Linked DNA regions of Homo sapiens: regions 1, 3 and 4 are each reported to be linked to region 2. Evidence: microRNA targets listed by miRTarBase, many of them from high-throughput screens and not tested one by one. Region 2 holds a microRNA gene; each other region holds the end of a gene's coding sequence.

Region 1 (7,451 bases), not on the chromosome of region 2:
CATGGCCTCTATTTTCTTATTGATCTTCTATCTGGTTCTATCCATGATTAAAAATGGGGTATTGAAATGTCCAACCATTACTGTAGAACTATCCTCCCTTAAAGTCTGTCAATTCTCCCTTCAAATATTTTGGGGTTCTGTTGCTAGATGCAGATGTTTATTATATCTTCTTGATGAGTTGAACCTTTTATTAAAATATAATGTCCTTCTTTGTCTCTGGAAATGACTTAATTTCTCCTTCATTCTTGAAGGGTAGTTTTGCCAGATTTAGAATTCTTAGCAGACAAGATTTTTTCCTTTCAGGATTTGAGCTGTGTCATCCCACTGCCTCCTAGCCTCCATGGTTTCTGATGAAAAACAGCTGTTAATCTTATTTGAGGATACCTTATACAGTCAGCCCTCCATATCCACAGGTTCCATATCTGCAGATTCAGCCAACCACAGATTCAAAATTCAGTATTCACAGGATGCAGAACCTGTAGTTATGGAGGGACAACTTTTTCTATCTATAGGTTCTACAGGGCCGACAGCAGTACTTGCATATCCATGGATCTGGGTATCTGTGGGAATTCCTGGAACCAATCCCCCATGGATACTGAGGGATGACTGTATGTGACAAGTCACTTCTTTCTCACTGCCTTCAAGACTCCCTCTTTGTCTTAGGGTTTTGACAATTTAGTATAATGTGTTTCACTGTGAATCTCTTTGCCTTTATCCTGCTTGGAGTTCATTGAACTTTTTGGATGATTACATACATGTCTTTCATCAGATTTGGGAAGTTTCTGGCATTATTTCTTCAAATATTTTGTTGCCCCCTTCTTGCTCTTTTCCTTCTGGTACTCCTGTAATGTGTATGTTGGTATACTTGATGGTGTCCAATAGGTCTGTTAGGCTCTGTTCATTTTTACCTCATTATTTTTATTTTCTTCTCAGACTGGATCATTTCAATTGCTTTATCTTCAAATTCACTGATTTTCTTCTGCCTGCTCAAGTCTGCGGTTAAACTTCTCTAGTGAATTTTTCATTTCAGTTTTTGTACTTTTCCTAAAATTTCTGGCTTCAAATAGGAAGCAGGGAGGGGCTCTGTGCCTTTAAATTTTCCAGTTGATGCCACTAGTGGAAGCCATTGCATCCCAAGGAATGTCTAAACCAAGACAGGCATCTGCTGGGACCCACCAGATCAAAGGGCACAACCCCAAATTTTTGGAGGACAAGGTCCCACTGCCTACCCTGGCCAGCTAGCTACTCCAGGAATGTGAGCTGCTATCCCCATAGCTTCAGGGGAGCTGAAGAGAGGGGGATAGTAGCTGGGTCACACACACAGTTCCCTTAGCAAAGATCAGCAGCCTCTCCCTTTACCAATCAGTCTCCCGATTGTTATAAATGTCCAATCAAGTTCCAGAGTTATGAGATAGTTGACAATCACTGTTTCTACTTCAAGGTAGCTTCAGTGGAGGGACCAATCCCTAGGGCTTCCTACTCTGCCATTTTATGTGATGTACTCTTCTCCCATTCTACAGGTAAAGAAACTGAGGCATAAAAAATTCAGGAATTTGCCCAGGGTGGTGCCAGGATTAGAGCTCAGCTGTCTACCTAAAAAAAAAAACCCATGCCCTTGGCCACTTCACTATAGTGCCTCTCCATATGGTTTGCACCTGAGATGTATTTTATATTCTCCCTTAGACAATTTTTTAAAGAATGCTAGAATTGGGAGAGTGCTTACAGCCCTCTGATCTCCAAGAAGCCTAAGTCAGGGCTTCTCTCCCCACTAAATACCTCAAGGGTGAGGAGATCACATTCTCCTAGTCCTGAAGTTCTACCTAATTGTCGTAGAAATCTTTCCATGATATATGCCAACTCACTTTTGTGAATTCACTTAAACTGGCTATTTTTAGGGGTACTCAAACTTTACATGGTCTTATTCTTCCCCATAGGCACAACTACAAGAGCGGAATGACCCTCAGCAACTGCTATTAGATGCCAAGCACATGTTTCCTGTTTTGTTTCCATTTAATCCATCTTCTCTAACCATGGACTCAATCCACATCCCAGCGTGTCTCAATCTGGAATTCCTCAATGAAGTCTGAAGATGCATGTTTCCAGCATTAGTTTGATTCCCAATGTGAGCAAGAAGGAAGTATATACAGTAAAGTAAATTCAAGGATCTGTTAAATCTGGTAAAAGTAGATCAAATCAGAGATTGACAGCCTGTGGAGGGTGCTGAACTATACAGAATTAGACACAACTATGTCATTATTTTTTGTACCTACTGCTCAGAATAAAAACACTTGAAATATGGAAGATTTTAAGTTTGATTTCAGTCCAACACATATACATAATTTATAGACACCAAGCAGTCCCCATAGACATATAAAAGGTGTCAATTCTATAAAACGAAGCTGCCTAGTTTTGATCTTTGCATAGAACTAGAGAATGTCCAAATTAAAATACCAAATATATATAAGTCACATAAATTGCCTTCAAAGGGCTTTAACAAATAATGGTACTAATAACCATGATAATGGCATATACTGACATTTCCCAAAGTTTGCAAACCATAGGTGTGGTTGAGTTTGTGGTGAGATGTTTTAAGAACAAAAATATGGGGATGAGACTTCTGAGAAATATTCCCAAAATATTTTTTAATGGCTGATTATACACAGACAGTGGTGTAACTGACCTCCAGACCAGACATTTTGAGTACTGGTTTCTGAAGCAAAATTAGAAGTGCCAGTCCTCAGTGTGCTCAAACGCTTTTGTGTTATCTTGATTTAATGGAAGAGATTATTAAAATGCTGCTATCCCAAACTCCAAGTGAGAAAGATGGAAAAATATTTTGTTTCTGATGCTAGTCCATACACTTTCCAAGTCCCACAAAACTTTCACAAAAATGTATATAAGCTAAATATTAGAAACGGATAACAAACTTGTTTTATTTATAGATGTAAAAACCAAACAAGTCAATATGAAAGCTTTTAATCTCTTAATACCATTAAGCTTCCAGTAAGAGCATCACATAATGCTCTACTGTTCCAGAAACCAAATAGTAAAACAAACTAAAGTTCGCACATCAGATCATCTGAAAAACCTTCAAAAATAATCAGTTCAGGGATATTATACAAAAGTTTGGGTTTTTTTTTTTTAAGAGAATAAAATGGCTTAGGTCAACTTTCCCTTTTCAGGTTATTTTCAACGTTTTTCAAATTTAGCACACAAAAAATTGTAAATATCTCTCCCACAAAATAAGGATTTTAAAAAAGTAATTCAGTAATATAACAGGCTTAGATGTTTGCTGCTCTTAGAATTTTTTTTAACTTGTTTTTGGTTTCTTCAAAAGCAAGCATTCAATTGGAAACCCATATTCTTTCCACACTTTTTTTTACTGTCTTTTCTGTATTTCTTGATAGCAGTATGCTGTTCCCATAAGAAAAAAATGGTATTTGCAAATCATGGAAGAACAGCCTCTGTATTACATTGAGAAAATAAGATTTATCCATGAATTGGAAGTAGAACAGCCTGCCTTCACCCTCTTTTACTCAACCACCCAACTTAAAAGGCTCTTGGAAACACAGCACACTCCACGCTACCTTCTGCACTGTGCCCTTAGAGCACAGCTTCCTCAGTTGTTCTCTGCATCTCCTGGGGCTTAGGCCAGTCTTAGCCTGGGTTAAGGCTGCTGACATTGTGTTCCAATCAGTTGTCATGGGCATTATCCCCTCTACATCCACATTAAACATGCCGGCTTCTCTTGGGCATCGGCAGAGCTGTGCCTTTTTCTTTCAGTTACAGTTACATAATCACTGACGTCCATGACACTTACCCATGGATCCATGTGCTGACTTCATTTAGAAGGCCAATCTAAAACAACTGGGTTTGTGGCTACCTCTTTAAAGTTGTTTGTGAAGGATAATTTGTTTTTTAATGCACTTTAGTTTGAAAGTGAGTCTCTTATGTAAGGACCATCCTTAAAAGACCAAAAATGCCTTGTTAGAGTGTTAAGGAGTTTTGACATGCAGTGGTTCCACAAACACAGTGGCTTACTATCCTTATACACTGTCTTATACCATCATTCTCTCCATCTCTCTTGGTCACTACTCTCTGCTGTCACTGGTTAATCACTAGGTGCCAAGAGCTTACTGAATAAAAGCTTGGCAATTAGAATAAATGGGGAGGGAAGGACCTTATGAATAGTCCATTTAGCCTAAGAAATGGCAGATTTAGTTCTTCTCTTCCAAAAGATAAAGGTATATCCTGGAATTGTACTTAAAACTTACAGATGACTAACAAATATATACTTTATATGTAGTTAATATTTAGATCTGTCTTATTTAATACTTGGAGGCTAGAAGAAGCATCTTTAGGGGAACTATATAATCTTTTGTTAGCATTTTCTCTGCATTTTAAAAAATCATTTCAATTCAAACATTTATCAGTGTCATGAAATCAGTAATGACTCTTTAACAATTCAGGTTTGAACTCTGCATTAGATGTCTCTTTAATTTTTTAATATTTAAAATTTAGTTGACATTTTTTTCACCAGGTGCCTTTAGCGGTTACTAAGATAACTGACATCAGTTGTTTCTCTGAAATAAGTGTTGCTGTGGGAATAATTTTAATGTTCAAGGTGATATCATGGGGGAGTTTTGTCTTTTAAAACATTAGAAGCATTTTAAATATTAAGAATCAAATATTTATAGATCAAAACTTGTGTTTTAAGTATTATACGGGACCTGTTTACTTATAGTAAATGTGAATGTACACATGAGTTGTTGCTGAAGCTGACAAGCATATTACATACATGCATTTTCCCTGTGCCCTCATAGTTGCAGTTAGAGTTCCAGTACCTGTAGGCTCACCTGGGAGGCAGATTAGACCCAAAGGTAGATGTTTTTCCCCTTTCCATGAAGCATGTCAGTGGGAGTTGCTTCCTTTGATTTCCCTAGTACTAAATTTTAAGGCTTTTGTAAAAACAAAACAAAACTAGGAGCTTGGAACAGTTAAAAATCAACACTGCTACCATCAATTCATCAAATATTTACTTAGAGCTTTCATACATTAAGATTCCAGTAACCAATAAATTAGAATTCATTTCTTCTGCATAAAGTAAATTTTCATACACTTGACCTACTAAGACAGCAAGGGTGTCCTAAATTGAGGCATTTGTATAATGCCTGCATAACTAAATGGTCACTAAAATGGGACAGCATGGGGCAAGACCTTGTAGTTCTTCACAGAATATTTGTGGTCAGTTTCTCCAATTAATTTGCTGCATGAGCCAAATAACCATAATTCACTTTTTATACCCACTGGTGCCATAATTAGAGAATTAGAGGGTGTAGACAGAGGTTAATGCCAATGAGAAACACAGGACAGGGTTTTTTTTATTATAAAGGTCATTAGATACAAAAGATTGTTTTTCAAAAAATTTCTAATTCTAACAAAGGGGATCAATCAGAAATGAAACTAAGCTACTTTCTAAAGTGACACTGTATCAGAATAATCCAGATTTGAATATAACATTTTGCCACCAACTGACATTTAGATGAAGGACTGCCTCTCTGAAAGAGTTCAGATCATATTCAGGGGTGAATCCAACACCATGGAAGAAAGACTACTGATGAAAATATTTTCCCACTTTGCACAAATCTGTAAACTACACCTTTGTTTATAGAAAAATGCTTGTAATAGTCACTGTAATATTTAGCTGTGGATAAAAATTTGTGGAAATAAATACTTTTGAATAAAGAGGTGTGCCAAATCTAAATGAAATTTAAAACTCTGCAGCTACAGGTTGACAAAGTTTCTTTGTAATGCTCTCTTGAGAAGCTTCATTATGGGGCCTATATTCTAATACGTGTCAAGATCATTTAAACCAGAGGTCAGCATCTTACAGTCCAAAAGTTGGGGGCAGGGAGAAACTCTCAGATAACAAGGCTTATTGAGCAATTACTTTAAAGCTATGGAATTAAAGGCAGTTTTGGTGTAGGCAAAGACAAGTAGATCAACGAAACAGAATAGGGAGTGCAAGGATAGGCCCAATCCTATGTATAACATAGCATACGGTAGAGATGGCATGAAAAATCAGTGGGGAAATAGTCATAAGATCTGTATGGAGGAATTTGTAAAATATAAGTGAAAAACAATGACAACATTAAAATGGAGAAATAATTAGGTACAAGAATTCGAAGACTCCATACCACTAAAAGTTTGTCAGTTGTCCCCAAGTTGATCTATAGATTAAAAATCAAAATTTCAACTGTTTCTATGTGAAAACTGACAAGCTCATTATAAGATTTATATGGAAGAGCAAAGGCCCATGAATAAGGAAGACCCTCCTTGAGAAAGTGGGAAGCTTTCCTTAGCAGGCATTGAGACTTACAAAATTTCAGTAATTAAGATGTGTGAGGATGACAGACATGGAAATTTTTTTTTTTTTTTTGAAACAGAGTTTCGCTTTTGTTGCCCAGGCTGGAGTGCAATGGCACAATCTCAGCTCACCGCAACCTCCGCCTCCCAGGTTCAAGCAATTCTCCTGCCTCAGCCTCCCTAGTAGCTGGGATTATAGGTATGTGCCACCATGCCCAGCTAATTTTGTATTTTTAGTAGAGACAAGGTTTCTCCATGTCTGTCAGGCTGGTCTCAAACTCCCGACCTCAGGTAATCCACCCGCCTCGGCCTCCCAAAGTGCTGGGATTATAGGCGTGAGCCACCGCGCCCGGCCCTGGATGTGGAAAAATTGACCAGTGGAACAGAATAGCCCAGAAACTGAGCATCTATATGGAAATACTGATACATTTTTTCTTAACTGGGAGTACACATCAAAATCACCTGGAAATCTTTAAAAAAATTTACACCCAAATTTATGGAATAAGACACCTCCAGAGATGGTGCCCTTCCACACCCATTGTTAACCTGACCCACCTAAAAATATACAAGAAGACATCCCCAGGGATGGTGCCCTTAAGCACCCATCATTAGAGACCACTATTGAAATATTTCATGATCCAGAAAAATGGTCACAGTATAATTAGTCCTCAACGTCACTGATAAGTTCTAGGAAACCACGAGTATAAACAAAATGACGTAATGACACCAATTTTAACATAAGCTAGTTGATATAAACAGTTCCTTCGGCATATTTATGGTCATACAAACATCACCAAATTTTTTTTTTTTTGAGATGGAGTCTTGCTCTGTTGCTCAGGCTGGAGGGCAATGGCAAGATCTCAGCTCACTGCAACCTCTGCCTCCTGGGTTTAAGTGATTCTTCCTCCTCAGCCTCCCGAGTAACTGGGATTACAGGCGTCCGCCACCATGCCTGGCTAATTTTTTTGTATTTTTATAGAGATGGGGTTTCACTATGCTGTCCCGGCTGGTCTCAAACTCCTAGCCCCCAGTGATCTGCCTGCCTCGGCCTCCCAAAGTGCTGGGATTAGAGGTATGAGCCACCA
Region 2 (7,965 bases):
GGCAGTAGTTTGCTGCAGAGGTGGGGCCCTCATGGAGAACCTCTGCTAGGGCAGTATAGAAGGGAAATGTGGGGTCAGAGTCCCCACACAGAGTCCCTACTGGGGCACTGCCTAGTGGAGCTGTGAGAAGAGGGCCACCATCCTCCAGACCCCAGAATGGTAGCTGCACTGACAGTTTGCATCGTGTGCTTGGAAAAGCTGCAGACACCCAATGCCAGCCATGAAGGCAGCCAGGAGGGAGGCTGTACCCTGCAAAGCCCCAGGGGTGGAGCTGCCCAAGACCATGGGAACCCACCACTTGCATCAGCATGCCCTGGATGTGAGATGTGGAGTCAAAGGAGATCATTTTGAAACTTTAAGCTTTAACTGCCCCGCTGGATTTCAGACTTGTATGGGGCCTGTAGCCCCTTTGTTGTGGCCAATTTCTCCCATTTGGAATGGCTTTATTTACCCAATGCCTTTACCCTATTGTGTCTAGGAAGTAACTAACTTGCTTTTGATTTTACAGGCTCATAAGTGGAAGAGACTTGCCTTGTCTTGGATAAGACTTTGGACTGTGGACTTTTCAGTTAATGTTGAACTGAGTTAAGACTCTGGGGGACTGCTGGAAAGACATGATTGGTTTTGAAATGTGAGGACATGAGATTTGGGAGGGGCCAGGTGCAGAATGATATGGTTTGGCTGTGTACCCACCCAAATCTCATCTTGAATTCCCACATGTTGTGGAAGGGACCCAGTGGAAGGTAACTGAATCATGGGGGCAAGTCTTTCCCGTGCTGTTCTCATGATAGTGAATAAGCCTCATGAGATATGATGGTTTTATAAAGAGGAGTTCCCTTGCACAAACTCTCTCTTTGCCTGCTGCCATCCATGTAAGACATGACTTGCTCCTCCTTGCCTTCTGCCATGATTGTGAAGCCTCCCAGTCATGTGGAACTGTAAGTCTCTTAAACCTCTTTCTTTTGTAAATTTCTCAGTCTCAGGTATGTCTTTATCAGCAGCGAGAAAACAGATTAATTCAGTTCTCCATCATGAGGAATCTGGTCATCAATCTTTTTGGCTGCTTCATGCTGAGGAGGGGCATTGTGGGCAGCTCCATACCATGGCTGAACACCTGGCTACCCAGGAATCCAAGGTTAATCTAACACTATAATTTTCTTCTGAACCACAATCTTTCTCCCCTGCAAGTTCCCCCTCCTCCCCCAAAGACAAATCACTGCAGGGCCATTTTTTCTTGATATTACACAAACATTTTATCCAAAAGTAAAAAAAAAAAAAAAAAAATTTACCCCAATATAGTCTCAGGTATTTTGCTATAGCAGAACAGACAGACTCAGGCACTTTGCCTGCTCACCTCTTATCTTCAGGTGAGAGGCGTCAGGCATCTCCACCCCACAGTCCTGCTGACAGCACCCTAACATACTCACAGGCAGGAAGCAGGAACGTAGGGGTGGGTTCCAGGGAAGAGAGGTGTCATGATGAGAAACACTTGTGGGGCCTGAGCTGACCTAGGCGGCCGAGGGAGGGAAAGAGCATCAGGCAGGAGAACCAAAGTGGACATGAGGAAGAGAGGAAGGTGGGCGAGCCCCTGGATGAGAAGGGGCCACCACGATGCCAGGCTCACCTCTGCCATTGAATAGCTGCTCGGTGACTCCTCACAGTCTGCAAAGCAACCTCCTTATAATCTATAGCTCACCAAGTCAGACTACCAATTTAGGACGTAAACAAGGCTGAGGAATTTTATCTTTCTTCCCGCAATCTAGGCACTCAGTCTTCCCTGCAAACTTGTGCGTCTCATGACAGCCACACTTAAGGACAGCAGCGGGCAGCTGGAGGATCATTCCCTCTGGCTGCTGCCCCAGCTGTATTTACCTCTGGGCATAGTGACTATCTAAGATCTGGAACAACCTCTAAGAACAGGGTACAACCTTGACGTCTGAGAGAACATTACAGCTGGGGAAAGCTTGCTCCAGCAACTTCCCCCTCTCACTGTGTTCTCTTTGACCTCTTTATCACTTTTCCTGAAAAGGGAGGGAGCTGAGGAAAAGCATACAAGTCGCTTGGGTTATTGAGGCCAGAGGAAAAGAGTTCCAGATTTAAACGATATCAGTCCAGCTATAAACCACGCGATCCGCTGAGTATCAACTGACATGCAGACACAAAAGTGAATCCTCGCTTAAACTAATGTGAGGGGAATGAAAATTATTCTGCTTTTACAGGAGCACTGCCTGGCTGAGCAGGCGGTCTGGGCCAGCCACACAGAGATTGGTAGAAGGACTCCTGTCCCTGTCGACTCACAGCCAATGGACTTGGCTCCTTTCTTAGGGCCCTCCAGGATACAGGCTCCCCATTGTGCCTTGAGAATGAAGTCCATTTGCGCTGAAGAGGGAAGAGGGAATTTTACATTTGCTTACATTAGAAGGCACTGTAGCCAATGAGAGCCAAATAACCCAAGAGTTTTGGCACTAGGAGGGACTTTAGGCCATTTAATTCACACTCATCATTTTAGACAGATGAAACTGAGAAAGAAAGACGGAAGAGATTTGTACAAATTCACGGGTAAATCCTCAGCAAAGTTGAGTCTAGAATCTGGCAGACACTCAGACCCTCCTCCTCCCTTTCCCTGCTGCCTCCATGGAAAACTTGGTAGTTTTCCTGGCTTGTTGTGGTTTTCTGAAAGCCCTTGGATTATCAGAGCTCACATTCACCTAGGCTTATTTCCTCAACTCACCAGCTGGGGCTGAATGAGGCTCAAAGACCAGTGGGAAGAGAGTGCTTGCTGAAGGGTGCATGGTAGACTGAGAGAGAGGAACTATGAATTAGATTCATGACTTTACACTACCTACTTGAGAACTTCATTTTCAAATGTGCAAGGAGAAACAGACGCTCTTACTACACCCAACTAATCATTCAGCATGTGTCAGGTCCAGTGAGGAGGTGAACAGATGCAAACAGAACTCTTGGGGCATGCTTGATTCTGCATCAGTAAGCCATGATCTCACCATAAAAAATATCAGTCACCTCCTGTGGTTGGACACAAGTAGAGACTGTAGGTCCCCACCCTGATTAGCTTGCTACCAAGTGGAGCTGTTGCAATAAATGCAAGTCTCAGCTCAGACCACATTTCATCAAATGCAGGGATCTTTGTTAGATACCAGATTATATTAATCTTTTAAAACCTTGCTAAGAGGAGAGGTCTCTCTCTCTCTCTCTCTCTATCTCTCTCCTTGCAACCTCCGGCTCCCCCCAAAAAAAACAGCAGAAATACCCAGGCAAGAGAGAGTTGCTGTCCTTTAAAAGGTCTCTTTCTGCCCCTCCTATGCACCCTCTTTCCATAGGTGATGAGTCACAGGGCTCAGGGAATGTGTCTGCACCTGTGACTCATCACCAGTGGAAAGCCCATCCCATATCCCACCTAAACCACTCTTTGGTGCCCAGGATCCCAAGGGCCCTGAACTCACTTCAGGCCTCTTCAGGGGGTCTGAGTCCTGAGGATCATCTGTCTCATGGCTGTCCTCATCCCTAGGCCACCAGGCAGCCATTTATAAAGAATGGGCTATGCAGACTGGGGTGTCTTTAATATGGGATGAGGGATGGAGCTGGGAGCAGACAGAGAACGGAGACACTGGGACAAGCAGATGGAACTCTGAGTTGAAGAATTCTATATCCAAACTTGATATTCTAGGTCCCTCTGAATATATATTTTTCAAGGCAAGAGGATAGAGTATGTTCTATATTATGGTTTCTTAGCTGGATTTATAGCTTTTAGATGTTTAAACATATGCTATGTGGGTCTCCATTTGCACTCTTGCCCCAGCCTGCAAATGTTGGAGACAAGTTTTTGAAGCAAACGCAAAGACTGGTTTCCTATGGTTAGATGGTGGGGGGCAAGGGGAGAGTGGTCTTATCCTTGGAGATGTCACACCAGTGGGCTCTAGACTCCCAGCCCTACACAGATGGCATAATTATTGGGCTTGATCATTTTTATCCCTTATTCACACAAGACAATTAGTCCCATTAGATTACTCCTAACCAAACAAAAAAAAATCTGCTGGTTTGCCAAATCAACAATTACTTTTAACACTTTTGTGTGCAAATAAAGGAAACTCAGTTGTTGACACAGACTAGAGTTCACTTTTTTGTGTTATCCATTAATTAATCAACCCTAAAGAGTAAAAGCAGATTAGGATTAATTGGTTTACACACATATTCCATTACTTATACTACAGTATTTAAAAATAATGACCACAAGGCCGGGTGCAGTGGCTCATGCCTATAATCCCAGCACTTTGGGAGGCTGAGGTGGGCAGATCACTTGAGATTGGGAGTTCGAGACCAGCCTGACCAACATGGAGAAACCTCGTCTCTACTAAAAATACAAAATTGGCGGGGCGTGGTGGCGCATGCCTGTAATCCCAGGTACTCAGGAGGCTGAGGCAGATGAATTGCTTGAACCCAGGAGGCAGCGGTTGCGATGAACTGAGATCGCACCATTGCACTCTAGCCTGGGCCAACAAAAGCGAAACTCCATCTCAAAAAAAAAAAAATAATAATAATAATAATAATAGTAATAATGACCACAAATACAGCATAGCAGCCAGCCTGCCAGAGTCCCCCTTTTGTTTCTAAACTGGATACACCTACGTGGGGTGGTGGCTGTGGGCAGCAGCTCTCAGGATGAGGAATCTACAAGACTCCAGAAGCCCAGAACAAAGGCTCCTCTCCCCTCCAGAAAGGGCATGCCAGCCCCTAGGATGATGTATATCACCGTTTCAGACAATCCTTCTTTAACCCAATAAACCACATCCCCTAGGCCTATGCCCCAGGTTTGGGGTTCTAAGAGACTTACTGCACAATGTTTACGTAAAATCATTCTTCTTTTCTGTGCTGGTGCTCCATATTAAGCAACTTCCCTTTATCTGCACTTATGTTACAGGACCTAAGAATTTTCTACTTACATCCACTTAGGGGCTTTCCATGGGCAAATCTGGCCATGACCCATCACATGCTGTTTTTCCAGCTCTTTGCTGTGTTTACTTTTCATGTAAACTTGGGTTATTCCAATAATTGTTTTTCGGTAATTTGGAGAGTTACAGGAATGCAACATTGAGCCCAAGAGGCAAGATCAAAACTAAAATTTGTGACATTAAATATCCAAGAGTTCTATCCAAAATCTTCTAGAAAGTTAATGAGAACCCCAGGCAAATCAACTGGAAGAAAAATATTTACCATTTAGCACTAGACAGTTGCAGGTACAAATCTTAGTCTACAGAAATGTCGACAAGCTAATCAGTGGGTTCCATTCCCATTCACCCAGGACACACAATACCACATTCAAGAATTCCCTAATGAATATACAGTTCTTACTTTCTCTGTGACCCACCTCCCCCACACCAAGTCCCCAGATACTGGAGACAGGGAGCTTCAAGTGGAGCACCACATATTCTCCTAAATCTCTTGTATAAGTCAGAGTCCTTCCTTTACACACAAGGGCTTTAAAAACTCAAAAGCCAGGAAAATGGGCTTCTATATCTCTGTCCCCTGTTGACTATCCCTTCACTAAGACAATGAGGACAGAGTAACCTTGCTCAAAAAAGCAAGAAGTACTTTGGGAGGCCGAGGCGGGGGGATCACCTGAGGTCAGGGATTCGAGACCAGCCTGGAGAACATGGCAAAACCCTGTCTCTACTAAAAATACAAACATTAGCTGGGTGTGGTGGCACATGCCTGTAACCCCAAATACTTGGGAGGCTGAGGCAAGAGAATCACTTGAACCTGGGAGATGGAGGTTGCAGTGAGTGGAGACCATGCCACTGCACTCCAGCCTGGGCAACAGAGTGAGACTCTGCCTCAAAATAAATAAATAAATAAATAATAAAAACAAGAAGAGAAGTAGGTGAGAGGGTTAAGAAAGAAATACAGGAGGAAAAAAACTATATAATACTTCAAAATTAATATCCAACCATAATACTAACAGTTTTGAATATATTTCCATATAGCCTGTTGATAAAAAAAATCTTTCTTTAAAATATAGATATGATTACAAGCCTCCAACAGTTTCATGTTCCCCACAAAGGAAGTATTAGAAAGATCCTCCTACATTTGGAAAATGAAGTGCTGGCACCACTGAGATATTTGTCTGGGAGACCTACTATTTGCATGGGCAGAGAAAACATTCACATGGAATATTCAACCACAAAAGCATCAGATCCTGGGAACAAAACTAACAATTTCCCAAACACTTCCAAAACATAGCTCTGACCTCTACTCCATCAAAAATTCTGATTTAATTTGAGGAGATTCTGCTCTATTTCTTAAATCAAATGTCCCTATCTCTCTTGCACCGTGAATGCTCTGAATCGACCAGTAAGACAAGAACAACATTAAAACCAACAGTGAGGGCAGTTTCAGCATCATCTTGCTCTCCTCCAAGACTTCCCCTGGTTACCTTGCTCCTTTCTCCCTGCCAGACCTTGAGTTCTCTTTTCCAAAACATGGCTTGAGCACCTCCTTGAAGAAGTCTTCCTCATGTCTCTTATCTTGTTCTAATCATCCCATGGCTAGCGTAAGTAGCACAGATCCCATCTGCATTCCAGCTATATGTGTTCCTGTTGTTTCTTCCTGTCTTCTCATTAGCCTATAAGCTCTATTGTACAAGGTCTACACACTCACATCCACTGTAGTACCCATAACCATGTTGCACAATATTCTGCATACAGAGGGAACTTAATAATTTTTGCAGTTTGACTTTTGGGTCTCTATTCTGGCTCCTGGGTAATCATTTATCAGCAAACAAATTAGTTATCAGTGAAACAGCCATGGTTTCCAGAGTTAATCATTTGTATTTCCACTGCTGGAAAAAACAACACATACCACTTTCCTTGCAGAGAGGCATGCGGTCAGAACGTCACTGGCAGATCTCGCCTGAGAGTTTTGACGCTTGTAACTCTGCCCTGGAAAGGTGAATCAACTTTTATTTTGATTCATGTGTTTTTCCAGGTTCCTTTAGCCTAAATGCATAAAAGTCAGAGAAAGTCATCACCATAATACTGATAACAACAATGACAAAGATATACACATACAGTCAGTGGCTGAACACCCACCAGCAAGATTGCTGGAAACCAAGCCGCACCACACCTGCCGGAGCATCCAGGACCATCTACTCAGTGCAGGCTCAGCAGCCATGCCTACCTTTGTCCATCCCAGGTATGGCTCCCCCAGGTGCCAGGGCTACTTCTCTCTCTTCTAGTGGCTGCTCTTCCTGCTGGCACGCAGCACCTGCCTCCCAGCTCTAAGCCTGTGGGGCAGCCAGGAGAGTCTTGCCTCTGGCCTCCGTTGGTCCCATACTTCCTGGCGAGTGGCTTTGCACGGCAGCCCAGCCCTGGGGAACTTTTCAAGGGAGAGGGCTTCTTTCCCTCCCTAACTCCCCTACCCTCACCCAACCCCACTCCATACTGGCCCTTTACCATCGCCAGTTGTTGCCTTGCCAGGTACTGTGGAACACCTACATCTTTCCCTATCACAGGGCTTGGACACACAGGCGTTGGAGTCAGATACGCTGTGTTTCAATTTTCAACCCCCTACACCAATTGCTTCTCTTTTCTGAACCTCAATTTTGTCATCCACAAAATAGAGATAGTATAATAATACCTGCCTTATGGTGGTGTTGTTAGAATTAAGCAGTAACGTCACTCGTAATGATAACAGCTGTACTGACCAAGGGACTTGTACGTGCTGGGTGCCATGCAGTGTTTTGTACCTCTTCTTGGAGCCCAGCATGGCGTCTAGCCCAGAACAAGTAGTCTGCAGCTTCCTTCCCCCTCTTCTTCTTTCTTTTCTCCTCCCTCCTTCATTCCCTAAATCAAATAGGACCTGGGGGTGCAGCATCTGGTCCCTTATGGGGGCTTTTTCCTCTCTGCAGCATCTTCCCTTCTTCTACAGGCCATCTGAGAGAACCCAGACCCC
Region 3 (7,965 bases), not on the chromosome of region 2:
TAAAGCCTGGTATTTAATACACTGGCTATAATGGCACTGCAAACTGTCATCAAGAGAATAAGGAACAGAGATGCCATTTTAAAGAGAAATATTGAGTTGTTTGGAGAAATAGAAGGCTTCATGACACCTTTTAAAAAGGCAGTCTCCTGTTGGCTTCTGAGAATATAAATTTTCCACCTGCTAATTTGATGGTTTGTAACTCCAGCTGAAAGTGATGGAGTCTAACAACCTCTCTGTTTTCCACCTGCTGCAAAGTGATGTCTTTGGAATTTGCAACAGGATTTTGCTGTTTTGATAGGCTTTTTATAAATAGAAGTAAGAGTGATTGTGTTCCACACTGTTGTCTTAAAAGTTTCCTGAAATGTTTCCTGGGTTATGCATGAGTCAAATCCTCCTTGAAACTGTCTGATAGGAGTTTGCTGGTGTAAATTTAGCATCACTTATATAGGTCTAACATTGAAGAAGCAATTAATCGAAAATTTCTTTTTCATTTGATTCAGTCCTAGCTGAGTCCTGATTTAATTCATACATTTCAGATGGAGGGAGAGAGATGAAGGGCGATCCAGTGAGTTCTATAATTTAGGTAAAGGAAGCATCTTTTAGTTGCAGCTCACATATAATTAGACAAGAACTGATGTCAGTTTTTCTAATGTCACTTGATAAAATCACATATTAAGAGGATTTGAGAAAGCTTGATTATTTCATGCCACCCTTCATTAATATTATCCATTATAATTTGTAGTGTTCCCCTCTTTTTACTACCCAAGACAGTTGTTCTAACACAGCATGTGTTCAGTACATATTTGTTGAAAGAAAGAATTGATACTTAATAAATTTTGAATATAAAGACCAAAGAGTCATAAACTTGTGCAACAATATCAAAAATTGAAATAAAAGAAACAGTGATTAGCAAGTTATAGAAAGTAAATCATGGTATGTTTTCCTGTTTAATGGTAATCATACCAAAATTTTGCCTAGAAGTCATCTATTAGAATGTAAAATTTTAAAGAACATAGCCACTTAACATACTCTCTTTGCTTCTTGATTAATTCGTAACTAGTGTTTTTGCAACTCATAGTTTTTTTTTGGAGGGAAGGAATTCAGGGAGTATTGCAGGGCCATATATGATTGTGAAGATTTTAAACATACTAAGAAACATTAGTTTCACATTTTACATGTGGCTGTCACATTGAGAAAATGGTTTTATCACAAAGAAATGATGGGCTTTCAAAAAGTAACTATATTATTCAATCAACCAAAAGACATGAGACAAATGAATTTTACCCATGTCTTAATAATTAATGATCAAGAGATAAGGAGGAAAAACTTAAGTAAATCTCTTTCATTGACTTCTCCCAAAGGAAATTGGGAATGACAAAGGAGATGCAAGCTGCTTCAGCCACTTGACTTTCAAATCAATTCGGCCAGGATTATAACTGGGAATTAAGTCCCATTTAAAGGTATAGGACTGGTACTAGAATAGCCAGGGCTGGAGCATGAAGCTTTGCAATTGATAGTGAATGACTAAAAAGTTGTGTGTCAAAGACTACAGTTTGGCTAGATATACTATGGAGGCAATACAACAGCTGCAGGTCAGGTTATTGTGTCTTGGCATAAAGATCTTAAGTATTCCAACTGGCTGCATGTAGCTTGATCCCCATTTTTAAAAGCTTAGAAGGACTGTAGCACTTTCCTGGCATGTGGGCAGCTCTTTGTTGAATAGAACGGCTATTAATGGAAAAAAAAGTCAGCTGGAACAGTGTGCTCTCTCAGCTTTTCTGGGAAAGGAACTAAAAATGAAATGATTCCATCATAAGTATGTTTGCAACTTTGACCTGATATTTTCAAACTACAGCTCTACCAATTATCCTCTTTTCTAAACCACATTTTTTTAGATCATAAAGCCCAACCAGATTCTGGGGTTAGAAAAACTCAATACTGACTATTGGCCATTGCCTGAAATCTGTCATTCTCTAAGTGTGTGATATGTATATATTTTGTATGTGTGTGCATGTGTATGTGTTAGGTATATGGGAGAGTTTTAATAGGTAGCCTGTGTATGTGGTTTGTGGGATATGTTTACAGGTTAGTCAGGTATATGAAAAGTTGGAATAGAAGCTGTCATGATTGGAAGGGTAATTCTTCTCACAGGGCAGTGACTTTCTACCCTAGATAAATGGATAGGGGAAAAAAACTCTGTTTTCTTAAGCATCCTTTTGGAAACAAAGCTAGAAAACAAAGACCTAGCCAAAAATAAAAAAGTAGGCTTCATATCGTCTTAGGAAAATAAAGCTGAACTAAAATTAAAATATCTCTTTTCAGAAACTGGACTGTCATTCTACCCTTCAGCTTTGCTCAGGCTGGAGCTGGCTCTTCCCCACTCTCCCACACTCTGTGTTCCAAGAATAACCTCAGAGTACTTCACAAGCAGATCCTTCAAGAGCTTGTAATGGTCCAGCAAATACAGTACACATGATCCTTTCATGTGCTTGAATGAAGGAACAATAGCCTCTTGTCATTTTCTCTTTGGGCCTGTGCTCTTTAGATTGTATCAGTAGGGGGAAAATTTTGGAGATTAAGCACTAAAAACTGTCACTTTGCAGACAACATGGGATATATATATATACACACACACACACACACACACACACATACATATATGTGTATATATATGTGTATGTGTGTGTGTGTGTGTATATATATATATATATATATATATATATATATATGTATATTTGAGATTTCAACAAATCCTCATTCTGATTAGCCCAAAGGGCCAATCATTCAAAAGGAACAACCCTGCTCTCATTACTGCAACCTACATAAAGACAAACCCAAAGCTCTTTTAATGTTAATATTAAGAGTTATAAATTTGGCCCAATGTAGGGGGGAAGAGAAGGGGCAGAAACCAACTGCACAGTGGAAGAGCTGCCAAGTAAACATTTTTTCCCCAAAACAAAGTTTAGTAGAAACTTTTCCACTGGAGGACTTTCTCTAGATCAAGCATTTTTAAGTTCAATTAAATAAAATATTTTTTTTAGAAATTGAGATCTACAATATATTTATATCCATAATTCTAAACACCCAAGTCTAAAAGACATAAAAAATAAGTAGCGATGCAGTCACTGAATAGCAAGTCATGTCCGCATTTCAAATAGTTATAAAACATGTGAAGTGATATAACAATAGAAGGTCAAAAATATGAAACAGGTTTAGCATAGTCATATTGCATTGGAAAAAAAAAGGCAGAATTACACTATTTAGTTACCTAAATTAATTTACAGGGAAACGGGATCCTAGAAGTCCTCCGACGAACCAAGTGCAGGTAATCTAAAGGTGGGGAGTGCATGTTTTATTTCTATCTGTTCTCTTTAATAAGAGAATGTGAGGTAATTAGAAAGTATGCAATGCATTCTGGACTGTTCTGCTAGTTGTCCCAGGCAAGACAAATCAAAATGCTTCAGAAAAGAAAGGCCTAGTTGAGTATTTGGGTAGAGGCCCCCCTTCAATCAGCTAGTCACTAAGTGGAAATCTCATTATACACTGATTTTGTAGAGATGGATTGATCACGCTGGAGAAAAGGCTGGTTGCTGAGGTCGTGTCTCTTCCATGTTTCCTCAGCCTCCTCTGCATTTACTGAGTTAGGTCCTCAGAGTGGTGAAGGAAAATAGGTCATTTTCCCTTCATAAGTATCATTGGATGATTCCTCTATATTAATTATATGAACCTTATAATAGTTAAAGATCTTTTTAATTTTTTTTTAAATTTTTTCATCTCAAAGAGTTCTCAGTCCCCACCCCACACGAGGTACCGTGAAGGGGCACTAAAGTGCATTTTGATGTAGGGGGTAGAGCTTAAAGGTGCTGTCCAAGCTAAGAATCAAGATGATGCTGTTTAAAAAAGAAAGGCAATTCCTTCTACCTCCATCTCTGGAGTCAGCTGAGGGAGGGCAGTGAACTAGACTCTCCCCAGAGGATTGTCCTAACTCTTAACTTTAGAGAAAACTGTGTAAGGACCTGCACATATAGAATCATTTATTTGTCCAAAATAGCAAAAATAGGCCTATTTCACCCTTAAGAATTTGCAAATCTGATCAGTCATGATCATAAAAATGTGAATGGATTCCAGATGCAATCCATGTGGGCATGCTCTGTGGAACTAGCTATGCATCTTCAGCTTGAATGAACATGCGGCTGTTCATTTTCATCAAAACATGTCTTCTAAACTACCATAAATAAAATACACATGGAACAATTAAATCTTTTTCTTACAATAATTACTTTTACATTAAAAAGTCATCATTATCTTCAGATATATTGAAAATTAGGACTCTAAATCTTATTATTTCCCAGCCTTAGTTAACAATCTTGCACAGGCCCGATAATCCAAAATTTGGAGCTCTGATCTACACAGATTGGCAGGTTTCACACAGTTTGACAGGTAGGCAACTGTGAGATATGCATTTTAAAATTTAGCTTTTTCTATCAAAACAGTCTGAAATCTTTTAAAATCCCTACAGAGACTGTATTTGTGCAATGCCACAGTCATGTGGCTAGAAAGGAAAAAACAAAATACAGTCTGGAAGATTAACCACCGTCCAAGTTTTCTTGGTCTTCAGTTTAAACAATGATGAGCCCAGGAAATCCAATTAAATACAGTGCCTTAAATAAGAGAAGAGTTGGTCCTAGAATAATTTAAGCTACTAAACAGGGACTGTCTCAACCACGGGTGATTTGATGCACTCTTCATGCAATATGCTCTTTTCTGCAAGGCTCAAAGAATTTTCAGCAGGATGCTCTGAAATGTGACTGTCACCATTCAATGCAGAGACAAACCCTTCTTGGGAGGGGCCTTTCAAGTATGAGTGAAATTCCACTTGAGGGTGATTGGACCTGTGTTCAGGATATAAACTATTGCAGGGCACACCGCTATCATTTTCGGAAGAGGAGCAGCAAACGATTACAGAGGGGTTGGCAGCTGGGTAGTGGGAGGCACCATAGGCCTCTTCTGCTTGTCGGGCATAGTCAACGAATTGCTCCGGGGTCATGGTGTAAGGCACCAGCGAAAGGGTACCATTTTTGACAGTGTCTCTTTCAGAATAGTTCTCAGAGATCTGATTTGGAGTTCCTGGAATGTGGCTATCTATTTGGTAATACAGAGTTGAAGAGTTGGCATAAAAAGAAGCATTCTTTGCATGGCTTTCGTGAACGGCGGTGCCATCAGAATAACAAAGAACTGAAGGAAGAGGGACAACTTCGGCATGGGTGCCCAAACCTTCCACGAAGCCATCTCCTTTGTCATCATCGTCATCCTCCTCCTCCTCTTCCTCTTCTTCTTCCTCCTCCTCCTCGTCTGACTCACTAGGTGCCAAGCTTTGCGTGCTAGAATCTGTGACTCCGCTGCAAAAGCTGCTCCCATCCTCCTCTTCTTCCTCCTCCTCTCCTTGGCAATCTAATTCTTCAGCCGACTGCAGGTGCAGCACTGCAGCCTGGGGCTCAGTTTCAATCTCAAAACTGTCTGCGATTGAATATTCTACGGAGTGAGCGACAGGGCCCATAGAACTACTGTGAGCACTTATCTCACTGTGGCAGCCATTCAGCGTGGGGATTTGCTGCTCTCGGTTTTTCTCCAGTTCAAGTTTCATTATTGTGTGCAAAAAGTGAGTCCGAACACGGATAGGATTAAATTCAATTCTACCTGCTGTGTTACTACATCCTTCTTTAGTGCAGCCGCATGGGAAAGACATACGATCCACCTTGGAAGGAAGAACACAGATTAGCACCATGGAACTATTACAAACCAAATAAACGCCCAGAACTTTTCAGTAACTTCTTTGAATTAAGTAATCCATCCACTTAATTCCACATATGCCAGAGCAAATGACAACCAAACTTCAAATAGAAATGAAAAGGGGAAAGTGAGGGCTTAAAACATAAGAGTTAACTGCTTTTTATACCTATATTCAAAATAAAAATGGGTTATGGGCATAAGTGTGTATTTTCAGTTCACTGACCCACTCCATGGCTTTCTACCCTTTTTTCTGTATTCCCTACTTTCCCTTCCCTCCACTTCTTTAATTTTGCTCCCATGTTTTGAATGCTCCTGTCTTTCCCCCAAGTTCCTTTTCTTTCTGCTGCACCCCAGCTCTTGTGCCTGATTTTAAACAAGCAAACTTACTGTACTCCTCTCCACATGCTATTAATCTAACATATATGATGTACCCCATGTTAACTTTTCCTTTTGCTTTTGCTTATTATAAAGGTGCTTTTCCCTTTGCTTATTATAAAATGGACTTACACAACTTAGCATCATGCAACCTCACAATTTGCTCTCATTTGCTTACCTTCTTATTGTTTGGGGTGCTTGGTACATGGGTGCATGTGTGTGTACTGTACTGGAGCGCTGCAATGGATATGCACATTCATGACTATGACTGGGGGACTCATGTGTTTAGGTCCTGAGTCCCCCCTTCCCTCTCCATTCCATTAGATACAATCTTCTTGAAGGAAGGGCATGTACGTTTCATCAATATTCCAAAACTATTTTGGTGATTGGATACCGAAGATAGAGTGTTTGGGTTCAACAAGTGTTGGACTGACCTCTTCACTCAGGTGAGAGGTGGGGTTCTGGACAATCCAAGGGTATTCATGAGAGATTTACCAATTGTCTCAGATTCCACAGATTAATCTGTATGCAGACCAGAGTATAGGCAAGAGAAAAAAACTTGCTCTGCTTGTCACCTTATCCAGCCATGGAATTTCCTATGCTAAAGAAGAGAAGGCAGACTATTCTAATACAATCATCTTGGCCCCAGTAAAAAGTATAGCAGATATTAGAGCCAGAATTTGTATCTGTATTTTTTTTTTTTTTTTACTCATGAATCTTTCTGTGAACCCATCTTAAGCAACTGTTCAGCAGATAGGCACTGCCCTCTTCTTTTGACTACCTGAGTTGCTTTCCTTATTGAAAAAGCCAAGTTTCTGCATAAAATAGTGACACTAATCATAGCGCACCAATGACATTATAAATGAAGGGGGACCAGGAAATTATCTGATTGCCAGTCATCAGGGGTTGGTAAACTTTTTATTTGCAGAGGTCAAAGGAGTCAATATTTTATGCTTTGTGGGCCATATGGGCTCTGTGGCAACCACAATACTCAATTCTGCTGTAGGAGCAAGAAAGCAGTCATAGGCAATATGTAAAGAAAAAAATGTGGCTGTGATCCAATAAAACTTTATTTACAAAATCATGTGGCAAGGTCGGATTTGGCCTGTGAACTTATAGGGTGCCAACCCCTGACCTAGTTCGGTTCCTTCATTTTAGAGATAAAGAAAGTAACCCAGTGGGCCTGACTTGCCAATTTCATATAGTTGGCAAACAGCAAAGATGGAAGTACAATTTCATTTTCTGCAGTCTCAATCTAGTAATTTTTCCACTAATCCAACCACCTTTAATCAATCATCATTTTATATCCCATGGATGGATCAGAAAATACACACTCCAGTGTTAGGGATGTCATGATCTCCTTCAACATTGGTAAAAAGCTGAAATAAGGTGATATAATACAAGAATCCAAGATAAAATAATTTTAATTAACTCAGCTGCTACTTGGGTTGTCTTTCAGATTATATGTTATATGTATAAGCATTTTATGTATTCCCATGAATGGCCTTAAATTAGTCTTTCTCTCTTCCTGAATTATGTCTTTCTTCCTGAATTACATGTCTTGCCTTGCCAAAAAATTTTCTTTTACATGTGGGAAGCTTCATTATAGGTACCATGACTGCCTCCTTAGGGGGTGGTAGACAATGTCTTGTCTTTGGATGCCCTGAATTCCCAACCCTTACCTGGCACTTAATGCCAGCCAGGCTGCAGGTGCACGTGTCTGGATCACAGAACACTCGGCAGTCACAGCCACAGTCCTCTCGTGAGAGGCGGATGGCTCGGAGTTCGTGCTTTTCTTCC
Region 4 (7,965 bases), not on the chromosome of region 2:
GTTTGAACTCAGCCAGCTGTTGATGGAACTGAGGTGGTTGTAAGGGTTGGGGAAAAGAAGAGGAAGCTCATCTCTGCAGAGTGGGTAGGGGAAGCTTTAGTTCTCAGTTTAAAACAGTGGTTCTCAAAGTGTGGTCTCCCAACCTGCAGCATCAGAGTCTCATGGGAACTTGTTAGAAATGATTTCTTGGGCCCTACTCCAGACCCACTGGATCCGGCCATCAGGTGAAGTTCAAAGAACTTGGTTCAGATGTAGTGTTCACTAAATTACAGACAGCAGTCAAGATTTTAGGAAGAGCTGGTTGAAAATAATTGCCTTGACTGGCTCTAGTGACCCCCCAAGGAACACATGCCACTTACATGTATGTTCTCTTCATTCATCATTTATGGGTATATTTGTATTACTCCACAGGGCTGACGATTTGGTATTAGACTTGCTAATGAGCAGCAGCCATGTGCTCCTGCTATCTGACAGTCGGTACAGTCACAAGTATATTGTATGCAGCAGAGAAGAGCTTAACAGCCAGCCTCCTTCCACATTCTGCTCTCAGGAAATAAGCAAGGGGAGGATCCAGAAGTGTCATTTGACACTGACGACAGAGTACTTATTTCCTATGCAAAAGAGCCCAGGCAGAAAGACAAACCTAAATAAGAATCTAACTTCTGTAAGAAGCTGTGAAGAGTGATGCTGGCAGCTGCCTTTGCAGACTCTAACTCCAGCAGCATGAATGTGTCCTTTGCTCACCTCCACTTTGCCGGAGGGTACCTGCCCTCTGATTCCCAGGACTGGAGAACCATCATCCCGGCTCTCTTGGTGGCTGTCTGCCTGGTGGGCTTCGTGGGAAACCTGTGTGTGATTGGCATCCTCCTTCACAATGCTTGGAAAGGAAAGCCATCCATGATCCACTCCCTGATTCTGAATCTCAGCCTGGCTGATCTCTCCCTCCTGCTGTTTTCTGCACCTATCCGAGCTACGGCGTACTCCAAAAGTGTTTGGGATCTAGGCTGGTTTGTCTGCAAGTCCTCTGACTGGTTTATCCACACATGCATGGCAGCCAAGAGCCTGACAATCGTTGTGGTGGCCAAAGTATGCTTCATGTATGCAAGTGACCCAGCCAAGCAAGTGAGTATCCACAACTACACCATCTGGTCAGTGCTGGTGGCCATCTGGACTGTGGCTAGCCTGTTACCCCTGCCGGAATGGTTCTTTAGCACCATCAGGCATCATGAAGGTGTGGAAATGTGCCTCGTGGATGTACCAGCTGTGGCTGAAGAGTTTATGTCGATGTTTGGTAAGCTCTACCCACTCCTGGCATTTGGCCTTCCATTATTTTTTGCCAGCTTTTATTTCTGGAGAGCTTATGACCAATGTAAAAAACGAGGAACTAAGACTCAAAATCTTAGAAACCAGATACGCTCAAAGCAAGTCACAGTGATGCTGCTGAGCATTGCCATCATCTCTGCTCTCTTGTGGCTCCCCGAATGGGTAGCTTGGCTGTGGGTATGGCATCTGAAGGCTGCAGGCCCGGCCCCACCACAAGGTTTCATAGCCCTGTCTCAAGTCTTGATGTTTTCCATCTCTTCAGCAAATCCTCTCATTTTTCTTGTGATGTCGGAAGAGTTCAGGGAAGGCTTGAAAGGTGTATGGAAATGGATGATAACCAAAAAACCTCCAACTGTCTCAGAGTCTCAGGAAACACCAGCTGGCAACTCAGAGGGTCTTCCTGACAAGGTTCCATCTCCAGAATCCCCAGCATCCATACCAGAAAAAGAGAAACCCAGCTCTCCCTCCTCTGGCAAAGGGAAAACTGAGAAGGCAGAGATTCCCATCCTTCCTGACGTAGAGCAGTTTTGGCATGAGAGGGACACAGTCCCTTCTGTACAGGACAATGACCCTATCCCCTGGGAACATGAAGATCAAGAGACAGGGGAAGGTGTTAAATAGATTTAAGTTTCAAAGCAAAACAAACTGTGATTATTGTATTTACTTGTACTGCTGCTTATCAATATTGCTGACTTTACAAACTGATATAATTATTACCATTAGGAATTATAAAAATATTTCACAATCTACACTTTCCAAATGTGCAATGTGGTAAGTAGAGAACCATGTTAGAAGTAATAATTGTTTCAGAATTAGAACTTGGCTTCCCAAACAATTTAAGTGTTGTGTAAAGATGTTGCTGTCAAAGTGATTAGACAGCCTGGCTATTCTGTCATTTGTTCACAGTGGTTTTACTGGGTACCCCCTAGGACCAGCCCTGTAGTGGACCGGCTGGAGCCTGCAGTAGAGGTTCTGTCAAAGCTGAGCCCCTTTACCTTCAGTTTCACCCAGGACCTGCTAGTCCTAATTTTACCTACTAAATTGTATTTCACATAACCAAAGCTCAAAATCTACTTTCACTTGAGATTTTTAACACATTAATGATAAATTTTAATGCGTTCTTCATTTACTTAATAAGTGTTAATTTACTTGATGAAAAGTCCGTATCATAATGTTCATGACTGAAGGTCAAAGAAAAAGAAACAGCACCTTATTCCAATTCTGGACTCATTTCAAGCCATGGCTGGTTCTGGCCAAGTTTAAATAAATTCAAACTTAAACTAAAGCCTGCTTCAGTGAACTTTTTAAAGCTACCTGAATGAGTCTTCAGTTTCTAAGTCTAAGAATTGTAGCAGCTTTCCAATGACATTCAGTAGTCTGATATGGGGGAAAAAATACTTAAAAAAATGTCCTCTCTTCACTTCCAAAATGTGGGAAAGTTATTTTTCTATAAGCAGAAATGTGTTCCTCCTAATATCTCCTTTCTCCCAAGATAAACCATGGTTAATGATATAGGTATAGATTACTCCTCAAATACAAATAGAAGATGGAGATGGTGATCTTTCTTGTTAATGGTACTAAACTTACCCTTACTCAGAACATTGAACTTGAACCCTACTCAACTTTTAAAATACTATAGGCTAAGTTATAAAAATAATCTAGCAACCTGAGAAAGAGATTAATATCAAAAAGAGAAAATTCAACAAACCAAGACAGAATTTGGTTAAGAATACAAAATAAAAAGCATAAGGGCAATGCAGAAAGCAGTAAAACTGTGTACCCAGACATACGGTAAAATCTGAGTAACAGGCAATAACCATTCATTTTATAGCAAGGTAAAACATACCCAATAAAACATGATTATGATATATTTCTGCCCCTTTTAAGTATAATGACATTCACCCATGATTCTTGATTACTTTGTTATGGAACTCGGGTATTTTCACTGAAAGTTTCCCTCAGAATAGAAATGCCTTTAGGGCAAACCAAGCCATGGAGAATCTGAAATATAAAGGATATGTTATGGAAAAAAAAAGATTTTGCTTTTTGTCTATGGGTTTCCGGATTCTTTGCTTTTTCATAAGTGGTCATAGTTTGCTTTTTAACACAGGAGGTAGGGCTGTATTCTTTTTACATCCTTCATTACAAATTTTATTTGAAGCTCATGTATTCAAATAAAGTAAAATTTAACCCAAGAATCCAAAATATTGTCTTGTGATATGGTAGTTATAAAAAGGATTATCATTGTCTGTGATTATTTGAATAAATAATTTTTATGTTCATTATATGTAGTAAATTTAGGATGTAAGCTTCCAGGGTTTGACACTTTAAACTTGTAAAGAAATAAAAATAATTACGCTTTACTTCCGATAGTTTTTGGAGATTTAAAGCTGTCTTTGTCTTGAATTATCATTCCAAAATCATTATTAGGAACAATGGAGCTTTATGGGGCTGTTTGACCTTAACACTGGAACAGGTCTCAAGGTGAACTGATTTTCAGAGTTTGCTAACAAGCACCAAATCAAGATGCAGACACTGGAACAAAGAGTAATTACAATGAACCTTTCATTAAGAACCTGATACACAAAGTTAAGTCCCGACTTGATCCCTTAAAAAATCTGCTTAGAGAAGTTTGATTTGTATCTTATCTGATCAAACCCAGATACTTTAAGACAAAAGTAGGAAATTAGAACAGATATCACCAAACTGTTTTCTTCTCACTTCTCTACTGTGAGAAACAACGTAGTAAGTGGGCAAACAATATTATGTGGAATTCAGAATAACAAAATAAGGCATTCTGGAAACTTTACCCTTGTGAGACAGTCGTATTTCTACATACTACATAATAGTTGTGCTCCTTTTGGCAAGCACTTCAATTTCATTCCTCACAGTACTTAAAAATCACTCAATGAACTTATAAAATGAACTTCAAAGAAAGAAAAAAAAGGAAACAGAAGGCGGCCAGGTGTGGCGGTTGACGCCTGTAATCCTAGCACTTTGGGTGGCCGAGGTGGGAGAATGGCTTGAGGCTAGGAGTTTGAGGCCAGCCTGGGCAACAGAGTGAAACCATTTCCAAAAAAATTTTAAAAAGAAAAAAAAAAAAGCCAGACATGGTAATGCATGCCTGCAGTCTCAGCTACTCAGAAGGATCACTGAAACCAGGAGTTCAAAGTTACAGTGAGCTATGATGGCACCACTGCACCCCAGCCTAGGAGACAGAGTAAGATCCTTTGTACGCATAAAAAGAAAAAACATATCCTGTTTATCAACTTTACAGCTGAAGACCTTAGTCTGATCAATGCCAGGTTCCTACATAAAGAGTTCACAAAATTTCCATGGCACTTAATAGATTTAAGCTATGAACTATATAACATGGATGTGAATGTGTGTGTCTGTGACTGTATGCACACAACATACAAATACAGATCTGTTGGTATTCCTTCTTTCTAGGATTTGTTACAATCATAGTCGGTATGAGATAATGGAAAATAAATTATTCTATTAACATATATATTTTGTTAAACATTTTATTTATGTGGCACTCTGAAACGAGCAACCTATGAAGGCATAAAATAAAAAGATTTTTTTTTAACTCGGGAGGTAAAGCTAGATATATCAATTAGGAACTGATTCATGGTGTGATGTACACGACATGTTGAAAGAATGCCAAAAAGGCGCAAACCATCATACATTAATACAAAGGACAAAAACAAAAAAAACCCCAGCATCTTCTTGCTATGAGGCAATAAGGCACTGCTAAGAGACTTGAGCACCAAAATGATTCTCTACAAATTCCTTCCTTTTTATACTGCAAATACTGCATTATTATATTCAAACCTTTAAAAACTAGGTAATACTTAAGATTTAGAGTCAACTTACTTTGTGGGAAATTCTATTTGCTGCTTTTAAAAACAGGTTAAAATAAGCTCTTAAAAATTAAGTAACAATAATCATATACAATACAGATATATAAAAAGGGTTGGTTTATTGTAGTTCAAATACATAAACTGAACATTCAAACATCTTAAAATTAAACTTTAGCAACAAAGTTTAACATTCAAACAGGAGTATAGTTTACAAGAAACACCCAGAAAGGTAATTTGTTGTCTAATCCAGAATATTGATAAAGATCACTTAATGGTGAATAAAATATGTTTAACCAGTGGTTCTATTCTGGCCAACATGTTAGTTATGACCGTGGTTCCATACCTGAGAAGAAATTACTACATAAATCTTCTCTTAGGCTAAACAACAAGACTCGGTCTATAATTCAGAGGGGATAATCAAAGCACGTAAGTGAACAAATAAAACTAATCTGATCTTTAGAGACAAAGGTAAAAGTATTGTCCATTATAATAATTGTAGCCTCTGGAAGATAAGAATTCAATTTTCAGTGTTTTCTCTTTTACCCGCTTTAAAAAAAAAAAATCAAAACAAAACAAACCCCAACTCGGGTTTTCTTGGAGTCTGTGGTATTTGCATCTGGCAAGTTCAAGCCACAAATGCTCTTACTTCTTGCATGTATTAACACTGCTAGGAAGAACGTCACCAAGTCACTGACTTCCACACCTCATAAAAGGATGAATTTTAGCTTCAAGATTTTAAGATTTACTAGAGACAGCCTATATTTGAGTATGTATGTCAGTCATGCCACACAAAGAAAAGCATAAATATTTCCAAAGTGTTCTGTTCAGAAACTGTTCACAAATGCTTCTCCTTCTGTTTGTCAGATGGTTTCGCAATAGGTTGACTAATGCACATATATGTAAAAACCTGAAAATTGGCTCATGCAAGCATTTTGAATAGATGCCCCTATGGAAGAGTATTTAGAATTATTTTGTTGATCGTCTCGTGGGCTCCGATGCTGTGGGAGGTGGGGGTGGACCCCGGCGATCCAGGTCATCAACATATGCCACAATCAGTTTACGCCTCTCCTCTGGCACACAGTCCAGTACTAGATACCGTTTGTCATTCTGTAAAATTTTTTCTACATCTTTCAGGTGCTGATCTGATTCTTGGATTAATTTTTTGGATCTGAAATAAGAAAAAGAAGTCCAAGAATTACTGACTGCTGTTCACAGGTCTTTCAGAAATGAGCTGGAAATGTCCATCTAGTTCCTAATTGTGTTTCCATTTTTTTTTTTTTTTTTTTTTTTAAGAAAAATTTCACGGCAGTGGTCACCTTTGTAAGTCGCCTCAGCAAAGACTCCAAGGAGTGAAAGGGCCTCAGAAGCTGAATTACCCTCCCACCCCTAGTGGTGGTCCCTCCAGATCAGGGCTGAGGGTGGGTGGGTAAATCTTGCCCGTGCTGTACCTGTTCTGTGGATGAACAGAGGACTTCAGTCTGCGGGGCTGCCAATCCCAGCATCTTTCACAAGCTTTCACTTTCACATCTTTCACTAAATTAACTATAAAAATGTAGAAAGAAGTCTTACTTCACATCTAATTTAAAAGCCCAAGCTGATGCAAAACATTAAGGATCCTGACCAAAAAATCCAAATGACAAAATATCTAAAAACCACACCCTCAGCACTATCTAGCCTCCCGTGCACATACCCTTTATTAAGATGTTTCAAATTTCTCTCTTAAAGAAGAAAAGCTGGAGCATGAAACAAAAATGGTTTCCTGCATACTGACTGGTAAGCAATGCGAAATTGTTTTCCTGATGATAAATTGTTAGGGGTGAAGAACTGTTGGGTTTGCTACAGAGAAATCTTGTTTAAAGGCTCTGATTTCATAATTTACAATTTTTATTTAAATGTACCCAGCAAAATGCTTTCCTCTGAGGGAAAAAAAAATGTTTATGCTGAGCTTAAATAGATGATTTCATGCTTTAGAATGATCTAACCACACTGAATAGTCTTCAGAGGAGGCAAAGATAACTGATAGTGAAAGATTATTTTAAAAGTCTCTTCATGAAATACAATTCTTATATAGTTGAGGGTATTCCTAAAAAAAGCGGTGAAGTAAAAAAAAAAAAAAGGTATGTATTCAAAACTGGATGGGTGGGTAACACAAAATAAGAATTGACATCTGGGCCCTTTCTTTAAAAAAAAAAAAAAGTATGGTAGATATGGGCTGTATTTGACTTTGGACAGAAGTTGGTATCTTCTTATCCCTAAAAATTAATAATGTCAACATGTGTGTGAATGCAAAGAATGCTCTGACCATTAGAGTAAAGACTAGTAAAGAGAATGACTGCCAATATGAAACATTTCATTGCACACACCTATATGTTATAAATTTGGTCTCTTTCAAAAGCGTCCTGAAGTCAGCTTTGGCTGTGATATATTTGTCTCTGATATATTCTTCAAATTCTCTTTGTTTTTTCTGTTAATAAAAAAAAAAAAGTTGAGATTATGGAAATAAAACCCACTAATTCCAAAATAAACATCAATTATTTATTAAACAGTAATGTGTAAGTCACATAATAAAATTTAAAATTCAAAAGAAAAAGGCAACAGGGTACATTTTGTTCATATATAAAATTCATTAAATCACAATTTGCAAGGCTCATTTTTGCGGCAAATAGAAAGAATGAGGAATCATAAATTAGTAGTGGCTAAAACTTGAGAACTTGCTATGTGCTACACTGCTGAGCATTTTATGAGGATCATCTACTTCAATCTTCACAACAACCTC

Evidence for each region. The annotated mature microRNA hsa-miR-587 reads UUUCCAUAGGUGAUGAGUCAC and lies in region 2 at 3,330-3,350, shown strand. An mRNA with a match to its seed (bases 2 to 7 or 8) in the 3' UTR can be bound and repressed. Matches are read on the target gene's strand: a 7mer-m8 pairs with bases 2 to 8, a 7mer-A1 pairs with bases 2 to 7 and ends in A, and an 8mer does both.
Region 1: the mRNA of MYO5B is a reported target of hsa-miR-587. Seed matches in the 3' UTR shown: 7mer-m8 at 2,295-2,301 and 7mer-A1 at 2,824-2,830.
Region 3: the mRNA of CSRNP3 is a reported target of hsa-miR-587. The part of its 3' UTR that is shown has no 7-base or 8-base seed match.
Region 4: miRTarBase lists GPR151 as a target of hsa-miR-587. Seed matches in the 3' UTR shown: 7mer-m8 at 3,248-3,254 and 8mer at 3,345-3,352.

What each region holds. Positions count from the first base shown.
Region 1 is chr18:49,821,107-49,828,557 of GRCh38, reverse strand. MYO5B (myosin VB) reads left to right here. Exons shown (of 40, transcript NM_001080467.3): 40 at 1,935-5,769. The coding sequence ends at 2,087. The region is part of intron 1 of SNHG22 (small nucleolar RNA host gene 22); the gene reads right to left. Among named protein-coding and RNA genes, the nearest start is that of SNHG22, 11 kb to the right of the region's middle.
Region 2 is chr6:106,780,811-106,788,775 of GRCh38, forward strand. It overlaps MIR587 (microRNA 587), which reads left to right and starts at 3,315; the gene lies at 3,315-3,410. LINC02532 (long intergenic non-protein coding RNA 2532) reads right to left here and starts at 6,731. Exons shown (of 7, transcript NR_033557.2): 1 at 6,449-6,731.
Region 3 is chr2:165,676,491-165,684,455 of GRCh38, reverse strand. CSRNP3 (cysteine and serine rich nuclear protein 3) reads right to left here. Exons shown (of 7, transcript NM_001172173.2): 6 at 7,848-7,965; 7 at 1-5,755. The coding sequence ends at 4,703. Among named protein-coding and RNA genes, the nearest start is that of GALNT3, 110 kb to the left of the region's middle.
Region 4 is chr5:146,508,833-146,516,797 of GRCh38, reverse strand. It overlaps GPR151 (G protein-coupled receptor 151), which reads left to right and starts at 608. Exons shown (of 1, transcript NM_194251.3): 1 at 608-3,654. The coding sequence starts at 685. The coding sequence ends at 1,944. TCERG1 (transcription elongation regulator 1) reads right to left here. Exons shown (of 23, transcript NM_001382548.1): 22 at 7,553-7,653; 23 at 4,837-6,357. The coding sequence ends at 6,156. RefSeq lists a silencer at 5,966-6,166.